2 linked regions of the Homo sapiens genome follow. The protein of the gene in region 2 purifies or fractionates together with the protein of the main gene of each other region. This does not show direct contact. Each region holds a gene or a part of one and is shown on either strand. Other genes may lie near its edges.

What was found. Proteins that work in one complex are often made in the same cells at the same time.
Region 1: the proteins of EMILIN3 (region 2) and GID4 purify together in Homo sapiens (co-immunoprecipitation; 2 studies listed by BioGRID and IntAct, with this or other methods). This does not show direct contact.

Annotation. Positions count from the first base shown.
Region 1 is NC_000017.11:18,041,220-18,046,358, reverse strand, and holds part of GID4 (glucose-induced degradation protein 4 homolog), read right to left. Parts: intron 1,213-5,139; coding exon 1,153-1,212; intron 1-1,152.
Region 2 is NC_000020.11:41,358,632-41,362,786, forward strand, and holds the end of EMILIN3 (EMILIN-3 precursor), read right to left. Parts: coding exon 2,637-4,155; 3' UTR 1,331-2,636; downstream 1-1,330. Other genes in the region: phosphatidate phosphatase LPIN3, read left to right, coding at 91-235.

The DNA of each region.
Region 1 (5,139 bases), on a different chromosome or scaffold from region 2:
TGTTGGGATTACAGGTGTGAGCCACAGCACCCAGCCTGGAGCAGGAATTTTTAATTCTCAACTTCGCAGATGAGGACACTGAAAGAAGTTAAAGGTCACAGATGCAGGAAGGGGCAGAAGAAGAATGCCACCCCAGCTCCTTTCCACTGCCCCATCCAGCACAGCACTCTGTCCAAATACTGCTGGATCATCAGACCATGAGAGCTGACAAAGGCCAGAGGCCCCCTGCAGCTAGGTCCAGCCTGGGCATTCCCAGCATTCGGAGGGCCAGTCCAGCTACCTCCTTCCACTTCCTGTTTCCTTGCTAATGGAAAAGAAAGGATGCTCCTCCTTGCTTTCTAAAGTCCCAGGAGTTCTGAGGTTTAAAAACTTGGTTCAAAGAAAATAAAATACTCTGCACAGCAGGTACTTCTGCTGGAAACTAGATGGTCACTTCCCCTTTTTTTTCTTTCTTTTTTTTTTTTTTTGAGACAGGGTCTTGCTCTGTTGCCCAGGTTGGAGTGCATGGTGATCTTGGCTCACTGCAACCTCTGCCTCTCTGGTTCAAGTGATTCTCTGTGCCTCAGACTCCCAAGTACCTGGAACTACAGGTCTGTGCCACCATGCCCGGCTAATTTTTTTTTTTTATGTTTAGTAGAGATGGGGTTTCACCATGTTGGCCAGGCTGGTCTCCCTACCTCAAGTGATCTGCACACCTCAGGCTCCCAAAGTGTTGCGATTACAGGCATGAGCCACCGCGACCAGTCAGTAACTTTTCATTGTTCCAATTAACTAAGAGGCTTAAAGAACTTAAAAGCTCATTTTTTATAGGACTGATGCTTATCTCAGAAACTGTTAAACTTATGATGAGGGTGGCAGCTATATTCTTATTATTTTTTCCCCCAAAAAGGATTAAAAATAAAATCAATAGTGTTGGTTGTGACAATTATGATGTACTTATAAACTTTTCTTTAAAACATTTGTGAATCTGTACACTTCTCAACAGGACACACTGAAACTGCCTGTTTTATGTTCCCTATACAGTAGCAATGCTCAGGAGTAGTCTGCTTTAATTAGGCCTCAAGGAGTTGAGACCGCCTGCCCTGAACCCCAATGAGCCTGTGGAGCACACCACAGACTTTCTAGTGCTGGTTTGTGTGAGCAAGTGCTTACCTCAGTAAGGCCTTTAATCTTCAAGTACCCACAAAGGTAAGAGTTCCCCGTGTCCACGTGCTGAAAAGAAAGGATACACAGCCTGTCACAAATAGATAAACTTACTAGGGGACATGCAGGAGGGTACTCTGCAAATCCTGTGAGGCCAGACTGGTGGTCAGTGAACACCCAGGGCAGTCCAAGGCTCACCCAGTCTCTGGAATCTTGATAAGTTCTCCCCACACACATGCCTGTTCTGCCAAAGCAAACTGATCCCAAGACCCTCTCAACTTTCTTCAGCTGAATATCATGAGACTGAAGTGTCTTTCTGAAATGGGGTGCCCACTCAAATTCATTTTCTGTACTATCTTCAACACACGTCTCCCGGTCATCTAGAGACCTTGAGCATTGCTGGGCACAGGGCCTCTGTCTCTGCCTGTACACGTGGTGTCATCCCTAACCTCAGGCTTGACTTTCTTTCTAATGTCTTTCAAGCCTTTTTCTATTTCTGTATTGCTCAATCATTGGTCTAGGAGGTCTGCTCCTCTTCTAGTTTTTACACTAAACATCATCCTGCATTATCTCTTTATGAAATGGGCAGACTGTTCAGAAATGGCATCTTATAAAGATTTATGTGGTATAAACTTCAGTTATGAACCAAAATGCCAACCAAAAGTCTGACTATATTGTGAATGTTCACTCTGTGCATTTTATATATGGATGCTGTGTTTCTTAATGAAAAGAGTCAGGAGCCTAAAATAAATAGAAATAACAGGCATAGTAGACTTTGAGGTTTAGCAGTCACCAATTACTGGTTGCTGAGACACTGCCGGATGCCTACCCAACAAACAATTTCCTCCTTTTTCACGCTGGCAGGGTCCAGTTTTTGCTCTGGTACCTACCTACCACGTAAGACTTGGTCAACCTGATGGATCTAAGGCACACAGGTGTCCCTATCCCCTTGCAAGTCATGTATTTAGGGGTGAGTGACCCATTTCTGGCTCATCAGATGTGTAAGTCTCCTGAGTGCATCTGTGAAAAATCCCTGGCTTTTGAAGAGGCGCATGAGGAAGAAATGGCTTTTTTGTCCCCTAGTGGTGACAGTATCCGCATGGAGTGTCCAGTCCTGGGGGAGACATCTAGACCACAGGGGAGAAACAGGCCAGGAAATGCTGAGGATGGTAGTTAGAAAGATGGAAAAAACTGGGCCCATCGTAGGCCTCTGAATTAACCAACCTGAAGCCACGTCACCTCAAAAATCCTCCTGATGTGAGATTTCACCCAAATCTATACAGACTCATTCTGAATAGGGAGTTTCAGATTTCATGACAATTGGATTCACTTACAAGGTAAATCCTTGAATTAAAGCAAACCAAGTACAAGGGTACCTGTGGTACACTGAGATTTTAATGTTAAGTGAGGTCTTATTTCAAGAAATTAGAATAGTTTTGTGGCATTTATCAGATTTGTGAACCTGATTACTTCCAATTATACCATAAATCAAATACTAAGCCATGCTTAAAAACTGTAATGAACTTAGTCAACCAGATGATGTCAGCACCAAAGCAAATGAACTTCAATGAAGCCAAAGTGCCTTCACAGTTTGGTGCTGGTGACAAAGGTATTCCCTGTGAAAACTGCCAAAGCATTTTAAATATCCTCATCTGCTGACCTTGGCACTGGACATTATCTAAAACAGCTAATCCACGCTAACATGGTTCAGCAAAGAACTTTTATTAAAGGACACATAATTCTAACCTGAGTCTTTAAATTTCATGTATGCAATTCTCATTGAATTCAATATAGTTTGGAGTTTCACAGCTGCTGAAAAGTGTATCAGGTGGCAAGGATACTTGCTAATAAGATTAAAAATTGAAATGTAAATTGGCTAACATTTTGCATGGATTATCACATGCTCAAGAATCAGAATTTCAGCTTGGCCTCCATTCAACCAAGCGTCTCTCTACTCTGCCCAAATTGATCTTGATAATGGTTGGTGAACTCAAATACACCACAACGCATACAGCTTTTACCAAACGGCAGGCGAGCATCTCAAGAAAGATAACAGGGCACGTGTTTAGCAAGAAGGTGTCACAGCACAGCTGTGTCCAACGGCTGTTCTTTTAAATATTCCTTTCACAGCGACCAGGGCTCCCTTCTACTGCTGGCTTCTTAGATGGCAGAGGAGGAAAGAGGAGTCACAGTAAGTGCGGGGTGGAGAGGAGACCCAGTCAGAAACTCACAAAGGTTTGAGGAACTCTTTACACTAGAATCACAGAAAAGAAAGTACTCCAAAACAACAACAACAACAAAAACACAAGAAAAGATGCACAACAGCACAGTCATTATAGAAATTCAAATCAAGACTACAGTGAGAGACCACTTCAAAAACACTAGGATGGCTACAACAAAAAAGATGAACAGTGAGTGTTGGCGGGGATGTGGAGAAACTGGAACCCTCACCCACTGCTGGTGGAAATGTAAAACAATGCAGGGCCAGTTTCTCAAAATGTTAAAACCCAGTTACCATGTGACCCAGCAATTGCACTCCCAGGTAGTTATCTACCAAAGTGAAATATACATCCACATAAAAACTTGTACATAAATGTTCATAGCAGTATTATTCATAGTAGCCAGAAGTGGAAACAACCCAAATGTCCATCAACTGATCACTGTATAAACAAAATGTTGTATATCCATTCAATGGACAATTGTTACAATGAACAATGCAAAATAAAAAGGAATATAAGTGCTGATACATATTACCATATGGATGAACCTTGAGGACATTATGCTAAGTGAAGGAAGCCAATCTCAAAAGGACAAATACTATGTGATTATATGAAATGTCCAGAATAGACAAACAACAACAAAAATAGATGAGCAGTTGCCTAGGATTGGAGTGGGGGTTATGGCTAAGGGTTACATACAAGGTTTCCTTTTGGGGTGATGAAAATATTCTAAAATTAGGTTGTGGTGGTGGTTAAACAACTGTGAATATACTAAAAACTATTGAATTGTACACCTTAAATAAGTGAATTCTATCTAAATAAAGATACAAAAAGAAAGAAAGAAAACAAAACAAAACAAACAAAAAGAAGCTGAGTTATAAAAGGCAGAAGTATTTTAAGTCTAAGAAGGCTGTGTCTGACAAACTAGTCCTGGCTGAAAAACCAGATGATGGGGCAATTCACATGCCACTGACTAGTCGTGATGATGACCAAGCAGCTCACCAATCCAGATGTAGGGCAGCATTCATTGGCATGACCACCACCCCCACCATCAGACATCTTACTCAAGTGGCTCCCAGCCATCCACCAGGTTTCTGCTCTGGGCTGCCTGAGACCTATCAGCCCTGCCCCAACTCAACCACTGCTTCCCCTGGTTCATGATTCTCCTTCTGAAAGGAGCTCAGAAGTGATACCCTAATGACAGAAGGGAGCAGCAGTTGCTGCAGTAGCCAAAGCAGACTCCCCTTTGACGCCTGGCTATCTTGCCAATTGTCCCCTACTACATCAGAAACCATCAAACTGAACAACAGGGACAAATCCAAGATCATCCCAAACGTGACCCACCCAGGGATCTCACCTCCAGAATTCTATGACTAGGTGCAAAACAAACCGAAAAACCCCTGTACCTTCATACTCGACTCTCACATTTTAAGAAGAGGATCACTACATTAGGCATACAGTTATGAAGACAAAAATATTTCAGCCACAATCGTATTTCCATTATAATAACTATCGTGGCTCATGATAGAACTTTACAGCCCAAAGATATGATTAACATGACGATGCTGTTTCAAGTAAGCAGAGAAAATGATTTATTCCCACAAAGCAGTATGAGAATAAAAGAGTGATGAGTGCTCCGCAGTTAGCAGAAAGAAAAGGCACCCTCATTGTCTTTTGGATGGGAGACCTACTCTTCAGAAGTGAAACTAAGATTTGTTTTAAATGACCAAAAGGAGAGCTTGAGGAATAAATATACTGTACATTCCACCCTCACACC
Region 2 (4,155 bases):
GAGTCTGTCCCTTACTCTGGGACAGACCCATGGCCAAGGCCATCGTTTGGTGGCAGCTCAGGCTCAGTGCTGGCCCCCTTCTGCCTGTAGGTATGAGCGGCTTGGTGAAGTGGTCGAGCTCCTCTTCCCACCTGTGGCCCGTGGCCCCAGCACAGACCTGGCCAACCCTGAATACAGTAACTTCTGCTACTGGCGGGAGCCACTGCCTGCTGTGGACCTTGATACCCTGGACTGAACCTGCCCTGGCTGGCTCCTCCTCCCTGGCCCGGCCCAGGACTGGCTAGGTGTCCTGGGGTATAGGAGGGTGGGAATTGGAGTGTCATGGGGCAAACCCACTGAAGGGGAAGGAGGAGGCTGCAGGTTGGTTGGCAGCTAGAGAGACTCCCCCATCTTCCCCGTCATATTTTTGCCAGCTAAGCTGCAGCTGCTCCAGGCGTCAGTGTGGCACTGTCCTGGGGCAATTAGCTTGTCATCTGGGCCCTTGCAGGGTTCTTTTTTTTTTTTTTTTTTTTTTTTTCCTGAGACAGGGTCTTGTTCTGTTGCCCAGGCTGGAGTGCAGTGGCATGATCTCTCGGCTCACTGCAACCTCCGCCTCCCGGGTTCAAGCGATTCACCTGCCTCAGCCTCCCAAGTAGCTGGGATTACAGGCGTGTACCACCACGCCTGGCTAATTTTCGTGTTTTTAGTAGAGATGGGTTTTCACCACATTGGCCAGGCTGGTCTCGAACTCCTGACCTCAAGTGATTTGCCCACCTCGGCCTCCCAAAGTGCTGGGATTACAGGCATGAGCTACCATGCCAGGCCTCCTTGCAGGGTTTTCTATGCCCTTGATATCTGTCTCCCTGTCAACCTGGGACCTTGCTGTAAGTCTTGATAGGACAGGGAGAAGAGGGAGGCCCTACCGAGGCTCGAGGCTTCAGTGAAGGGTGACAGCAGTGGGAGTGTGGTACAGCCTCTGGAAGGACACAGTGTTCTCCCCGCCCCTTGTCTGGGAGCCAGGACTGTACCCTCCGAAGCCAGACATCACTGCCAACATATCCCCCTTGCTGGTGCCCTGGCATCTCAGCACATGACACACACCCACACCTGCAGGCTGTGGTTCCGGCTTGGCCTGCTCCCCGTCCGGCTGCTGCCGCTGCCTCTCTCCAGACCTCGCTTAAGGACAGTCCCAAACTCAGCTGGGGCAGGTGTTGGCCTGAAAGTCCTCCCCCAGCCTCTGCTGGCCAGCTTGGTGCTCACAGCTGCTGGGTAAGCTCTTGCCTAAGGAGCTGTGGGAAGCAGGGCTGATGCCCCAGCAACCTCTCCTCCCACTGTCTTTGAAGAAAGTAGCTTTAGACCGGCTAAAAGCTTTAATCCAGAGCCTGCCCTACTCTGATAGTACCAGAGTGGAGGGCAGAATACCAAATGTCCAGGAACCAAAGGCAGGGCTGTGGGGACCTGAAGAGCAGCACAGTGGGGCCCGTGCTGCTGTGGGGGAAACTGAGGCTGGGAGCCTCAGCAGAGACCGGTGTCAAGAGTCTCTGGGAACTGCATAGGCCTGAGGAACATGCATTTTCAAGTTGTCCATTGATGGTTTCGTACCTGAATTTCTCACCTTTTGTGAACATCTTGGGAGGGTGGGGGTTTTGCAGGGGTGTTAAAAGCAAGGCTTGGAGCCCCTTTCCTCCAGCTGGTGGCTCCTTCTCAGGGCCTGGCCTCATTCAGGCCACTTTGTAGAGAAATGCCCTGACCTCGCAGGAAGGATTTCCCCACCCCCAAGTGGAAGGAAGAGGACAGTGTGGGCACCAGAGGGCCCTGGAAACATCTTAGGGGAAGGAAAGGAAAAGGATAAATTTGGAGTGGGGGGTCTCTAAACAGATTGCCTGGATTCCGTTCTTTCCTGGGGTTCTACAGCTGCCTAAGCCCTCACCTTGGGGGAGGATCAAAGGGAATAAAGAGAACTCTTGGCTGAGTCTTTGTGCTTCTGTTCTGTCCTGAAGGACACGTGAGGAGCCAGAAACATCTGGCAGCCTCTGGTCCTTAGTTCAGATACAACATCCATGAAGCTGCCAGGTGTGAGGAGAGTTCCAGTGGGCATCACCTTCCTGCACAAACCTAGTCCTGATGGCTGCGAAGAGAAGCCGAGGGGACAAGGAACAGAAGCCACCAAGGGCTGTGGACTGTTGCTTGTGGGCACAGGGCAATGCGGACAGGCCACTGGCTGTGGGCCTGTAGGTCTCTGCACAGTTGCTGAGGCTGGTGCTGACTGCCTGCAGGGTCCTCTCAAGGCCTTACATACGGACACTGATCAAGGCCAGTTTGCCACAGCAGCTGCCCCTGCCAGCCATGCTCAGGCCCTGCAGCTGGCTGTCCAGACACTGATTTGCTGACAGTGGAATGTGAACTCTCTCAAGTCTACCCTGGCCTTCAAGCATGACATCCTTGCCTTGACCGCTGTCCGGAACTGTCCAGTTTCTGCAGCACTGTGCATGGGTTTTGGTGGCTGGGACAGCCACGTGGAGGATTCCCTCAGTGGCCTCCTTAGTGCCATTTGGGCTAGCCAGGGAAGGCTGGAAGGCGCTGCTGGATAAGGCTGGGCTCTGGGGTGATGTTCCCCGAGTTGGTGGGATCTAGGGGTTGGGTCCTGGCCAGCCTGTCTAGTTGGCTTGCCCTGGCCGCACCTGCTCAGCCAGCTGGGCCTGGCAGTCCAGTAGGTCATCCCGGAGGCGGGCAATGTCCTGCGTGTGCTGGGCCAGCGTACGATTCAGCTGGTCCACATGGCTCCACAGGCCCTCTCTGGGCCTCAGTGGCTCAGTGGGCAAGCTGTCCAGGCCCGCGGCCAGCAGGCCCAGCCTCCTGCACGCACCCTCCACTTGTGCCACCCGCTGGTCAAAGTGTCCCACTGTGTGCTGAAGTTTCTGGGCTGTGTCCTGGCAGCGGCTCAGCCCACTGGCCACCTTGGCCACACCAGCCTTGAGTTGCTCCAGCTCCCCACGCAGGTTCAGGACCTGCCTGTGGCCAGCCTGAAGCCTGGAGCCTTGGCTGCTGACCTGCTCCTGGATGGCCTGGACTTCGGCTTCCACCTTGCGTTCCCGCTCATCCAGGGACGTGTTGGCAGCCAAGAAGGCATCAGAGTACTGGCTGACAGAGTCACTGAGGCCTGTGAGCGACTTGCTCACTGAGTTCAGATTGACCTTGAGCAGAGTGATCTCGCCTTGAAGTGAGCTGCCCGTCCCTTCTGCCAGCTGTCCCTGGACCTCGGCCACAGTGCCATTGAGCTGCTGGAGCAGTGCTGCGTGGCTGGCCACCTGGCGTAGGAGGGCCTCGCTCCGGCTCTGCCAGGCCTTCACCTCTGCCACGAGGCTGTCCAGGATGGCTGAGGTGGTGCTCGGGGTGCACGAAGTCTCCAGTGAGACCAACCGTTGCTCTAGCACAGCCAGCTCTGTCTGTACAAGGGGCCGAGCTGACCTGCCCGGAGAGGCGCTGTCATGGCTTAGCTCCCCAGCCAATGTTGCTAGGCGCTCCTCGAGGCTCTGCACGCGCTCTTCCAGCATGGTCCCAAAGCCGCCCACTCCCCACCCCCCCATGTCCAACCTCAGACAGCATCCCCTTGCTCCACCCTCTGTCCCATTGAGCGTCTCCAGACCCTCAAGCAGCCCGTCCACACCTCCCTCGAGCATGGCAGCAGAGAGCCTCGTAAGCTCATCCCCGGCCGGGGCACCGGGGCCCCTTTGGGTCTCGGTGACTGCCTGCAGGGCCCTCTCAAGGCCATCCATACGGGCATTGATCAAGGCTAGTTGCCCACAGCAGCTGCCCCTGCCAGACACGCTCAGGCCCTGCAGCTGGCTGCCCAGCTGTGACAGCTCCTGGCGCAGGGCCAGCTCCCGGCCATCAAGGCTCTGGTGCAGCCTCCGGCTGGCGGCCTGACCCTCCTCACATTGCCGCCGTACCTCCTGCACCCGCAGGTCACACTCACTCTGGACGCCTTGCAGCTTCTGCTCAAAGCCATCCAGCAGGCTCCCCCAGAGTCGGTGCAGCCGTCGGTCCACGTACTCCTCCAGCAGGGCCAGGGAGGTGAGCGGGGATGGTGGGGCTTCCCGCAGCCGCTGCAGGTGGGCCTCATGGCCAAGTGCCAGCCCATGCACCTTGTCTAGAAGCTGCACCTTGGTCTGAAGA